Homo sapiens: one gene and its partners. The protein of the gene in region 2 interacts with the protein of the main gene of each other region in a biochemical or structural test. Each region holds a gene or a part of one and is shown on either strand. Other genes may lie near its edges.

Region 1 (3,500 bases), on a different chromosome or scaffold from region 2:
ATTCTGAAACTAGCTAGGTTTGGTGGCATTCATACTCCAGAATGAGCAGGTAGGAGTAGGACTTGTTATCTGTCAAATTGAGATTGACATACTGTGACTGTGATTCAGTAAGGAAAGGAGCAAAAGGATATGAAAACAAGAAGATTTTTTGCTTTTCGCTCTTAATAGTATTATCTACTGGGGTTGCTAGTAGACACTGCTCTGTATTTTGTTGAATATGCTGAATGAGCCTTTGACATTGAGAAGGAGCAGAAAGCACCGTTGATGCTATTTTCTTCACTTCAAACTGGAGAAAACTTAGTTGTTTGGACTTAAAATTGTTTGAATATAAAATCTTGAAAGATTCTTGTTTCTTTCAGGAGACAATATATTTCATATAGATAAAATGTTATTAAAGAATTTAAAGTTTACATTAAAAGTACATGGTCCAAACTGCCTTTTAAAAACTGTAACTAGGTATATGAAAAGTTTAAAAGTTTTGTCCTTTTTTGACAGTACTAGAGAAACCAAGGGAGTGTTATTATTAGACCATGATGAAAATGTTTTTGCTTTCATGGTCACTTACGTATTGATTTTGTGATGAGAGCTTGAGTAGCACAAATGGCACAAGCTTTTAAAATTTATCTTATTTTTGTCCCCCACCCTTTTTTTTTTTTTTTTTTTTTTTTGGAGACAAGTCTCTTTCTGTCATTAGGCTGGAGTACAGTGGCATGATCTCGGCTCACTGCAACCTCTGCCTCCCAGGTTCAAGTGATTCTCCTGCCTCAGCCTCCCGAGTAGCTCAGACTACAGGCACACACCACCACGCCCAGCTAATTTTTGTAGTTTTAGTAGAGATGAGGTTTCACCATCTTGGCCAGGATGGTCTCGATCTCTTGACCTCATGATCTGCCCACCTCGGCCTCCCAAAGTGCTGGGATTACAGGCATGAGCCACCACGCCCAGCCTTTTTTTTTATTATTATTTTTTAAAGACAGGGTCTCGCTCTGTCTCCCACAGTGGAGTGCAGTGGCATGATCACAGCTCACTGTAGCCTCGACCTCTCGGGTTCAAGTAATCCTCCTACCTCAGCCTCCTGAGTAGCTGGGACTACAAGTGTATGCCATCATGCCTAGCTAATTTTTGTATTTTTTCTAGAGACGGGGTTTCAGCATGTTGCCCAGGCTGGTCTCGAACTCCTGAGCTCAAGCAATCTGTCCGCCTTGGCCTTCCAAAGTGTTGTGGTTACAGGTGTGAGCCACCGCATCCGGCGGCACAAGCTTTTGAGTCTAACAGACATATGTCAAAATCTCAGTGTTGTCATTAACCATAACCACATCTGAGTTTTCGTTCATGCATCTGAATAAAGGGGATATTACCTTCCTTGCATTGTTCTTATGAGGCTTGCTGACATAACCTGTGAAATTACTAAGCACAAGTGCCCACCTCATGGAAAAAAGGTGCCTAATTACTCACTTTTCTGTGATTTATTCCTTCTATTTTAGTCTTTTATCTATGCATTTTCAAGATGGAATGTTTCCAGAGAAGCTGTGTGTGACATAGTTTGTGAAATGTTATACTGTAGTTTGAAAAATATTATTTTGATATAGCTAGACACAGGACCAGTATTTCCTAGAAATGCACACTGGGCCGGGCGCGGTGGCTCACGCCTGTAATCCCAGCACTTTGGGAGGCCAAGGCAGGTGAATCACCTGAGGTCAGGAGTTCGAGACCAGCCTGGCCAACATAGTGAAACCCCGTCTCTGCTAAAAATACAAAAATTGGGGGAAGGGATAGCATTAGGAGAGACACCTAATGTTAAATGACAAGTTACTGGGTGCAGCACACCAACATGGCACATGTATACCTATGTAACAAACCTGCATGTTGTGCACATGTACCCTAAAACTTAAAGTATAATTAAAAAAAAAATACGAAAATTAGCTGGGCATGGTGGTGTGTGCCTGTAATCCCAGCTACTTGGGAGGCTGAGGCAGGAGAACCCGGGAGGTGGAGGTTGCAGTGAGCCGCCATTACACCTCTGCACTCCAGCCTGGGCAACAGAGTGAGACTCCATCTTAAAAAAAAAGAAAAAGAAAAAGCACACAGGAGCCTGTATGTTTATTGGCAGGTCAGTATTATTCACATTCAATAATCATTCAAATCCAGTTATTTGGAATATTGTTCCCTTTATTCTAGGTAATGTAAAACAGTTGAGGAAAATGTGACTGGGAAAAGTTCAGTTTTAGTAGCTCTGAGTTTGCAAAAGCAAGGCATGCTGATTGTCTCTGTAAGATTACTGCAAGCCTAAAAACCAGTCTTTCCCTGCTTTTGTTTAGATTGTTTCCAAATTCCACTATTGGTGATAGTGGAGTCCCAGCACTACCTTCTTTGACTATGCGTCGTATGCGAGAGTCTGTTTCCAGGATGCCTGTTAGGTAATTTTTTACCTATAGCTTTTCTTTTAGAAAGTTATTTGGGGTGGTGGGGTTGGAAGCTTGAAGACAAAAAATAAGAGTTTCTTCGCATTCCCTCCTCTCTACGTGGAAACCCCTTGCTGCTTCTGTGGAACTTGATACTGGTGGTACAGAAAAGGTAGAAATTTCTGTTTATGGACCTGTAGGTCTTACATTCTGGAAAGTGACTTTGACTGTAGCTTCTTCTGTTATCATAGCATATTTCTTAATATGTCATTACATTTTAAAGAGCTTGAGATTCTGCTTTCCTCAGTATGTACTGAGTTCAACCTCAATGGAAAGGGTCCTAAAACTTAATACAGTGATTTGATAAAAATAAAACCCTTAACTTTGAAATGCATGTTGTGGCCGATGCATTTGCTAAAACCATGTATTTAAATAGACTAGTGTCTTTAAAAACATTTAATTAGATTTTCAGCATAAATATTGTTTCTCATGTGTCTCTGAGTTTGCATATAACTTGTCTTTCTTTACTCTGTTTTCCAGCTTTATAATCAGTTTTGTTGCGTTTATCTACTGCTCAGTGTTAACACACATGAATTTGAAACCTAAAGTAAAATCTACATCCAAAATATCTTACTTTAGGCCAGGCACGGTAGCTCACACCTGTAATCCCAGCACTTTGGGAGGCCGAGGCAGATGGACCACTTGAGGTCAGGAGTTCCAGACTAGCCTGGCCAACATGGTGAAACCCCATCTCTACTAAAAATACAAAAAACTGGGTGGGTGTGGTGATATGTGCCTTTTGGCCCAGGTACTTGGGAGGCTGAAGCAGGAGAATCTTGAACGTGGTAGGCAGTGAGCTGAGATGGCACCACTGCACTCCAGCCTTGGTGACAGAGCAAGACTCTGTCTCCAAAAAAAAATATATTATGTATACACACACACACACACACACACACACACACACATAATGTGTAATCAGATAATGTTTAATGTGAAAATACTATGGAAATATTAAACGCAGCATATCTTAGAATAAGGAATTTGCATATATCTGGATATATATTTCTGTATGGCTTTTATTTTTCTTGATAATTTGAA
Region 2 (3,500 bases):
GATATACCTCTTTTGCTTATCCATTCATCTGTCAGTGGACACTTAGGTTGTTGCCCTCTTTTGGCTATTATGAAGAATGCTGCTATGAACACTGGTGTACAAGTATCTGTTCAAGTCCCTGCTTTTAATTCTTTGGGGTATATACCTAGGAGTGGCATTGCCCAGCACCTACTTTTCAACACAATTTTGTGGTCTACTGCTCGTAGTCAACACATACGTAGGAACCTGTCATAAAATGAGCAAATGTCTCAGGGCATTCCTTGAGGAGAATGCTCCCTCTCTAAGCCAGCTGCTGGTGCTAGTGATTACAACGAAGAGAAAGCTACAAAGTTTGGCAAAGTGATGGTGCTGCCTGGGAATGGACTTTTTATGGGGGAAATGACATGCTTTGGAGATTGCATCCATGAGTTGGAGACTGGCAAAAGTTTTAGTGTGTATCTCTCATGAATGGCCAAGGTCTAGCATACCTTTTTAAAGAGTAACATGTGACACCATTACTTGCCATTAACTACTTTGTATGGATTTGTTTATCAGACCTCTGGTCATGGTGACAGCCCACTGGGAATAGGGTCCTATGGGACTGGAATGTGGCAAAGCCAACTTTGGAGGAGAGAGGTAGAGAGATGGGGCTGGAGTCCATGGAAGGCCTAGCTTGGGCTGTTACAGCACGGGGCCTGGACAGCATGAGAGTTCAAAAGATCTGTTTGGAAAGTTCATGCTCTTAAAGAAAGGTGGGAAGCACAGAGCTTGAATTTCATCTACTCCTCAGTTTTTGCCAGGAGTGGACTATTATTTACTGAGTCCACACCTCAGCAAATAATGCTTTCCAGGGTGACCTTAGTTTTCTTCCCTGCCTGAAGAGAAGGTTAACACTCCTGCTTATATTTGCACTTGCAGATAATCCAACAAGCTCTCCATTCCAGGTAGAGGGTTGGCTCCTTTCCAGATCAGGTACTGAAGGCCAGGGAGTCTGGGTAAAATGGAGATGGATGTATCTGGCCAAGACTGCCAAGACCTCTAGGCATCCCGGGTGATGGAACCCTGCAGAGTTCTTGCCCCCACCTGGTGGGTGGGTTGGTTGGGAGGAATGAGTTTGGCCATGTCTGCACCTGGTGGTGGCTGTTGCGCTGTTTGCTCATCGTGATTCTGCTCCTACCTGAACTTTCTCTTCTTCTTATGTAAGCCATCCCTAGAGATAACTGTAAAGCCATAATCTGCCATGGCTGGCTGGGCTTATATAACAAATTGGTTGGTATCGTGCAATAGCCTCTTGAACCCTGGAGAAACCAATGTGCTAAGTTGAGACTAAAACATGGGTTCATTTGATGGGGTATTTTGTGTGCTCAGTGAACTCAGGGGAGAGGAGTCCATGACCACAGGGGTCAGAAAGATGAAATTTCCTTTTAAATAAAGAGAACAATAATGGCCCAGAACATACTGTGCTGTCCCAAAGTCTGCAATAATGGGACAAGGGTTAGGGCATTGCTGTAGCACCACAGCTTTGGCAGAAAAGGCCCTCCACAGAACCCCATGGGCTAGGAGGAGCCCCATGAAGGCCAGAAGGCTAGATCCCAGTTTCAGGGCAACCTAGGTTTGATGAAGAGTCAGGTCAGGGAAAATGTCTTTTGGAGGCCACTGTCTACCATGCTGAAATCCAGCTTAACTAGAGTTGGAGTGGGGCTAAGATGCGATCTGTGAGAGCAGAAAGCAAGCTTTTCTCGATTCTATTCCAGGCAGGAGGGAATTTCATCAGTAGGCAAGGCAAGTTCACTTGTACCTTCTAGCTGAAAATTCCTGCCCCAAAGTAGCTGTGGCCCTTCTGGAAACTGTATAAGAGGCATTAAGATCCCAGCCAGCACAGAAGACTGAATGGGAAGCTTCCCATTGTGCAGACACTAGCCCGAGGGAAAACAAGAGCTGGAAGCAGGCTGGATCACTGATGATCCAGGCTCACCATTGGCCTTCCTCTCCTGGGAGCCACTTTCCTCAAATAGGTCCAGCCAGAAATCGGGCCCCTGCCTATGGACAGAGCACACAGGGACCTTCCCCATCCTTCCTCGAAGGAAGACTTTACTCACAGAATAGGCTTGAGTATTCAACCCACTTCTTCTAATCTTCTCTTCAGGGGAGATGGAGAGCAGCTGTTCACAGCTTAGGGGTCTGGCCAGGATTCCCGCTCCGTGCTATCTAGGCTGGTGATTGGCTAGAGCTATCCCTAAGGAAGAAGGGGGTGAGAAGTGAGAGGAAAGGAAGCGACTCCAGCAGCTCCTTCCTGGCTTACCCCACTCCCAAGACACCCCTCCTTCAGCGCTGCCGTTTAGCCTCACTCCCAGACTAGGCTGGGCCTAGGCCAGCCTGAGGGCCCTGACTCATAACTAGCACATCTTATGTAACAGCCAGGTTACTGAGGCATCACACTTCTGCTTGCTCAGTGGTAGGCTTCCCTGGGGACAGGCATTTGGAAGCCTGCTGGGGGTCCAAGTCAAGCTCATCATACTTCCCAAGGAAAAGCCTACTCTCCCCAGTGTCAGGCAAGCAGTCTGCTCAGAGGCAAATGCCAGGCAGCAAAGCCTGACCCGGTCCCACACTCAGCCTCCACACTCAGCAGTAAATGTAAGCAGACAGGCAAGCTGGAGTGGACTTAATTTGGCTTGAGGCATTTTGGAGGTGGCAGGGAGGAACCTACTATCACCTGATAATGCACTGCTAAAGAAACTGCGTGGTGCATGGAGAGGCCCCAGAACAGGTCGCAGAAGTCCCTCTTCCTTTTGTATCTGCTTGTTGGTTCAGAAACTACTGGGTGGGTTGGGGTGGGGGGAGTTGTTGGGGGGGGGGCGGAAACTCCAGGCTGACTGACACCAGGTGAAAGGGTTTACCGGAAGGTGGAGGAGCTGTTTAAAGGAAGGCCTTTCAAGAGCCAATTCCCAGTCCACGCTCCATGAAGTCTCAAAGTCCCCAGGTTGACCTGAATTCACAGTGATTCTTAGCTCTCTGCCTGGCCTATTCAGAAAATTACATTACCGGCTTAGTGGAACTGAGCCCCCAGTGAAGTCAGTATTGCCAGATTCTATGACAGATTTCTCTAATAACAAATGTGACTATCTACAGCACAGAATACCCCCATCAATCTAATATTCCACTAGCTCAAGGTTTGTAACTAAACCAATAGCTCCTCTTCTTCTCTTCCTTTGTCTTTTCCCCAGCCTGTCTCACGTGTGTTGCCATCAAGTAAATGGCTCACAGGCTGTGAGTAGGTGGGGACACTGCTCTCCACTCCAAGAAATAGAGGAGAAACAGGGAAACAAAGTCAAAAAGGTGGTGTGGGAATTACCAGCAGGCATGATTTGTATCCAAAGCTGACTCATAAGTTCTTGGACAAGCTCAAGACTACCATCTCAGGGCTCAGAAGAGCTTGGCACCCTTAGTCCCCCAGATCACAGAATCCAGTGAAAATTAGGGGACCTGAGATGGAGATGCAGAATTTTCCTTTGTGGGACTCC
Region 3 (3,500 bases), on a different chromosome or scaffold from region 2:
AATTAAAAAATACTGTCCCATGGACTGGCTCCTGAGACCAGTCAATATAGCTTTCCTACACCCATTTCATAAAAGGTATTATAAGATTCTAAATAACATAACCAGGATAATACAAGTATCTCACCAAGGGGGCTCAGCTGAATAAAAAAGGTGAGCTGCTGATACCTAATAGGTACTTAAATAGTCCATTTGACTATCCTGCCCACAAGGTATTACTTCGGTGAATGCAAATAAGATGTTTTGCAAACTGTGTGTTTTCAAAAATGAGTAAGACAAATACAATCACAAACGTATCTTTCAAATAACTGAGTTCACTGACAGAGAACAGCAATGTATCTTTATACAAATCAGTTTATTTCACAGGAGCCTAACTATGACATCCAGCCAGTCTTGTGACAATTTGCCTAAAATTCCCTTTTCATTGAGCAGTTACTGGCTACAGCAGCAGGTGAGCCACCAACCTCCTAGCTGTGTAGGTGACCACAGCACATGATAACTGGCAGGATGAATGATGGGAGGGTAGTCTAAATCTCAACTACAGTGATTATTTACTATACAAGACCCTTTTTTTTTGCCAAATTATTACTTGCCCTTATTTCTTTCATTTTCTAGGACTATCAACCTGGCCTGAAATGAAGTGATGTCCTCAAAACTTTAGATATTGTTGCCAAGAGCCTTCTTCTCAAAAATAAGTCAATGGAAACTGTGTTTACTAATCTGTGTTTTCTGAAATGCTACTTGGGGAGATGGGAAAAGGAAAGAGAATGAGATTGTGAAAAAAGGATCTGAAATTATAAGATAGTATACCATTCAGGAATTATAAATTATCTGTAGCTTGAATTTAATTAAAAAATATCTTATGAGTCGGAGAGGTTTTTTTTTTTTAATATTTTCTTCCACAGTCCAATCAATGGTTTTCCATGATATAAACCTTCTAGTTCTTAAATCCAAGGATTATATCTTAAACAATTATACCTTCATGCTATGGCTGTGGGCATGGGGACTTACACAGACATTCTGGAAAGCCAAATATACAAATGTCCCAGCAACCCAACTCTTGCAGATGTATCTGGGTGAAATTCTGACACAAATCCACAAGAGGACATAAGTGAGGACAGTCACTGCAGTATTATCTACTGAGGTAGGAAGTTAGAAGTTGGTTAAATGTCTACTACTAGGAAACAAGGATGTTATAGGTGAAAGACCCATACTAGATTCTCTTCAGGAGCTGAAACAACAAACTAGCTATATGTAGAACTGTGTGGATAAGCAGTGAAGGCAGAAATACAGTAACATGTAGCACAATGCCACTTAGGCATTTAAAAAATATATGCACAAAGAACTATACAGATACACACAAGTGTGTGTAAAACTGGTGAAATCTGATTAAGATCTGTGGATTGTATCAACGTCTATTTCCAGGTTTTGACACTGTTCTGAGGTTATGCAGGATGTTACCATTGGGGGAAACTGGGTGAAGAGACCTCTGGTTTCCTTGCAGTAAATACTAGGACTTCCTAGTACGTTTTTGTAACCTCCTTTGAATCTATAATTAAATTAAATTAAAAAAATTTTAAAGGTTAATGCAAGGCAAGAGAAGTACATTTAATATAATGTGGATTGTATGTGAGAGTATATGAAAATATCTATGTATTTCAAGTATACGTACATTTGTATCCAGTACTTGAAAAACTACCTATAAACACAATAGTGACATTTGTGCTAGCAGACCTGGGCATTGTCAGGGTGGGCAACTTTGACTTTCCAATGTAGATTCTTCTGTACCATTTTTAAAACTATGAATATACATGATATGTATAATAATTAAAAACATAAAAATACATAAAACCCTCCAATAATGTTTTATGGGAACATACACAAATAAAACAATCCATACCAAACACGATAGAGTGGTTGTCTATGTTGGGGGAAGGAGAATGAAAGGAGAAAAAGGCTTAAAGAGAATATTTTCATAAAAAATCCTAACTCGGTGCACTTGGACTATTTTGAGTGTGTTTCTAGAGGGTGGGTGGGGAGAGGAATTTGATCATGACAGATGGTCACAGAAATGTACTTAGATTAGTGAAAGGTATTTGGGAAGAATGCTTAACTGTCAAATAATCCAAATTATTTAGAGAACTGTATCATTTTCCATTAAGAATAGTTACTAGAGAACCTTTACAACAGATAATCAAGAGTTCAAATCTTAGCAGTTTCTAATTCTCAAATCAAAGTTGCCATTGGGTGTGTGTTTGACACCTAGAAGGCATACTAGGGAAGCCAGAATCACTGCCCATTAATCAGACTGGTGGTAAGGTAGGGGAAAAATGGACGTATAGTCTTCTGAGAGTCCCCAAATCAGAAGGGATAGAAGTATCAATGGTGGCGGTTTCAGGGTTTTTGTCTCTAACACACTGGAGAGTCTCAACATATGTAACCAAATGATACAGTAAAGAGTTTAGGATATAAAAAAAAAATCATAGCTACTGGCCAGACGCAGTGGCTCATGCCTGTAATCCCAGCACTTTGGGAGGCCGAGGCTGGCAGATTACGAGATCAGGAGTTCAAGACCAGCCAGACCAACATGGTGAAACCCCATCTCTACTAAAAATACAAAAATTAGCTGGGTGTGGTGGTGCACGCCTGTAATCCCAGCTACTCAGGAGGCTGAGGCAGAAGAATCGCTTGAACCTGGGAGGTGGAGGTTGCAGTGAGCCGAGATCGCGCCACTGCATTCCAGTCTGGGTGACAGAGTGAGACTCTGTCTCCAAAAAAAAATCACAGCTACTAATCCTGTTGTGCTGTGTCCTTTGCAGATCCTATTTATAAACATAAAATAAGTAATTCCTTGAATATGACTGTTAAGCAGGGTTTGAAAAGAGGACTGACAAGCTACAATGTCCCATTCCTGGTTTTATTCATAGATTTGTGATGACTACAAGGAACAATCAGCCAAAAGTCTGCGAGAATCAAGCTTTACAGGCAAAATGACCTTACGGATACCAATGACCCCAAAACGGTATGAAAGTTTCAAGAAGACATCCTTTAAATGTAAATCTACAATCACACTTCATACTAGTTATTTTATATTAACAGGCAGTGAAGAGTCACTAACTTTACTTTTCCTTTGACAAGAAGCACAAGAGCCAGTGAAGAAGCCTAATGGTGACTTATATTGAATGAAAAATGGTCATTTTCCCCTATCAGGAAACCTATTAATTTTTACCTAGTCACAGGTAAAAACTATTAAGAGCCACATGTAAACGTTTTAGTAGTTTTGCTTTAAATGCACTTTAAAGCACACTTTTTTTTTTTTTTTTGAGACAGAGCGTCACTCTGTCACCCAGGCTGGAGTGCAGTGGCGCGATCTCGCCTCATTGCAAGCTCAGCCTCCAGGTTCACACCATTCTCCTGCCTCAGCCTCCCGAGTAGCTGGGACTACAGGCGCCTGCCACCATGCCTGGCTAATTTTTTTTTTTTTTTTGTATTTCTAGTAGAGA

Evidence for each region. Proteins that work in one complex are often made in the same cells at the same time.
Region 1: the proteins of TSC22D3 (region 2) and RAF1 form a complex in vitro, tested with the Homo sapiens proteins (one study listed by BioGRID).
Region 3: the proteins of TSC22D3 (region 2) and NFKB1 form a complex in vitro, tested with the Homo sapiens proteins (one study listed by BioGRID).

What each region holds. Positions count from the first base shown.
Region 1 is NC_000003.12:12,605,118-12,608,617, reverse strand, and holds part of RAF1 (RAF proto-oncogene serine/threonine-protein kinase), read left to right. Parts: intron 1-2,318; coding exon 2,319-2,417; intron 2,418-3,500. UniProt on the Homo sapiens protein: Serine/threonine-protein kinase that acts as a regulatory link between the membrane-associated Ras GTPases and the MAPK/ERK cascade, and this critical regulatory link functions as a switch determining cell fate decisions including proliferation, differentiation, apoptosis, survival and oncogenic transformation.
Region 2 is NC_000023.11:107,765,788-107,769,287, reverse strand, and holds part of TSC22D3 (TSC22 domain family protein 3), read left to right. Parts: intron 1-3,500. UniProt on the Homo sapiens protein: Protects T-cells from IL2 deprivation-induced apoptosis through the inhibition of FOXO3A transcriptional activity that leads to the down-regulation of the pro-apoptotic factor BCL2L11.
Region 3 is NC_000004.12:102,602,359-102,605,858, reverse strand, and holds part of NFKB1 (nuclear factor NF-kappa-B p105 subunit), read right to left. Parts: intron 3,345-3,500; exon of another isoform or gene 2,873-3,344; intron 1-2,872.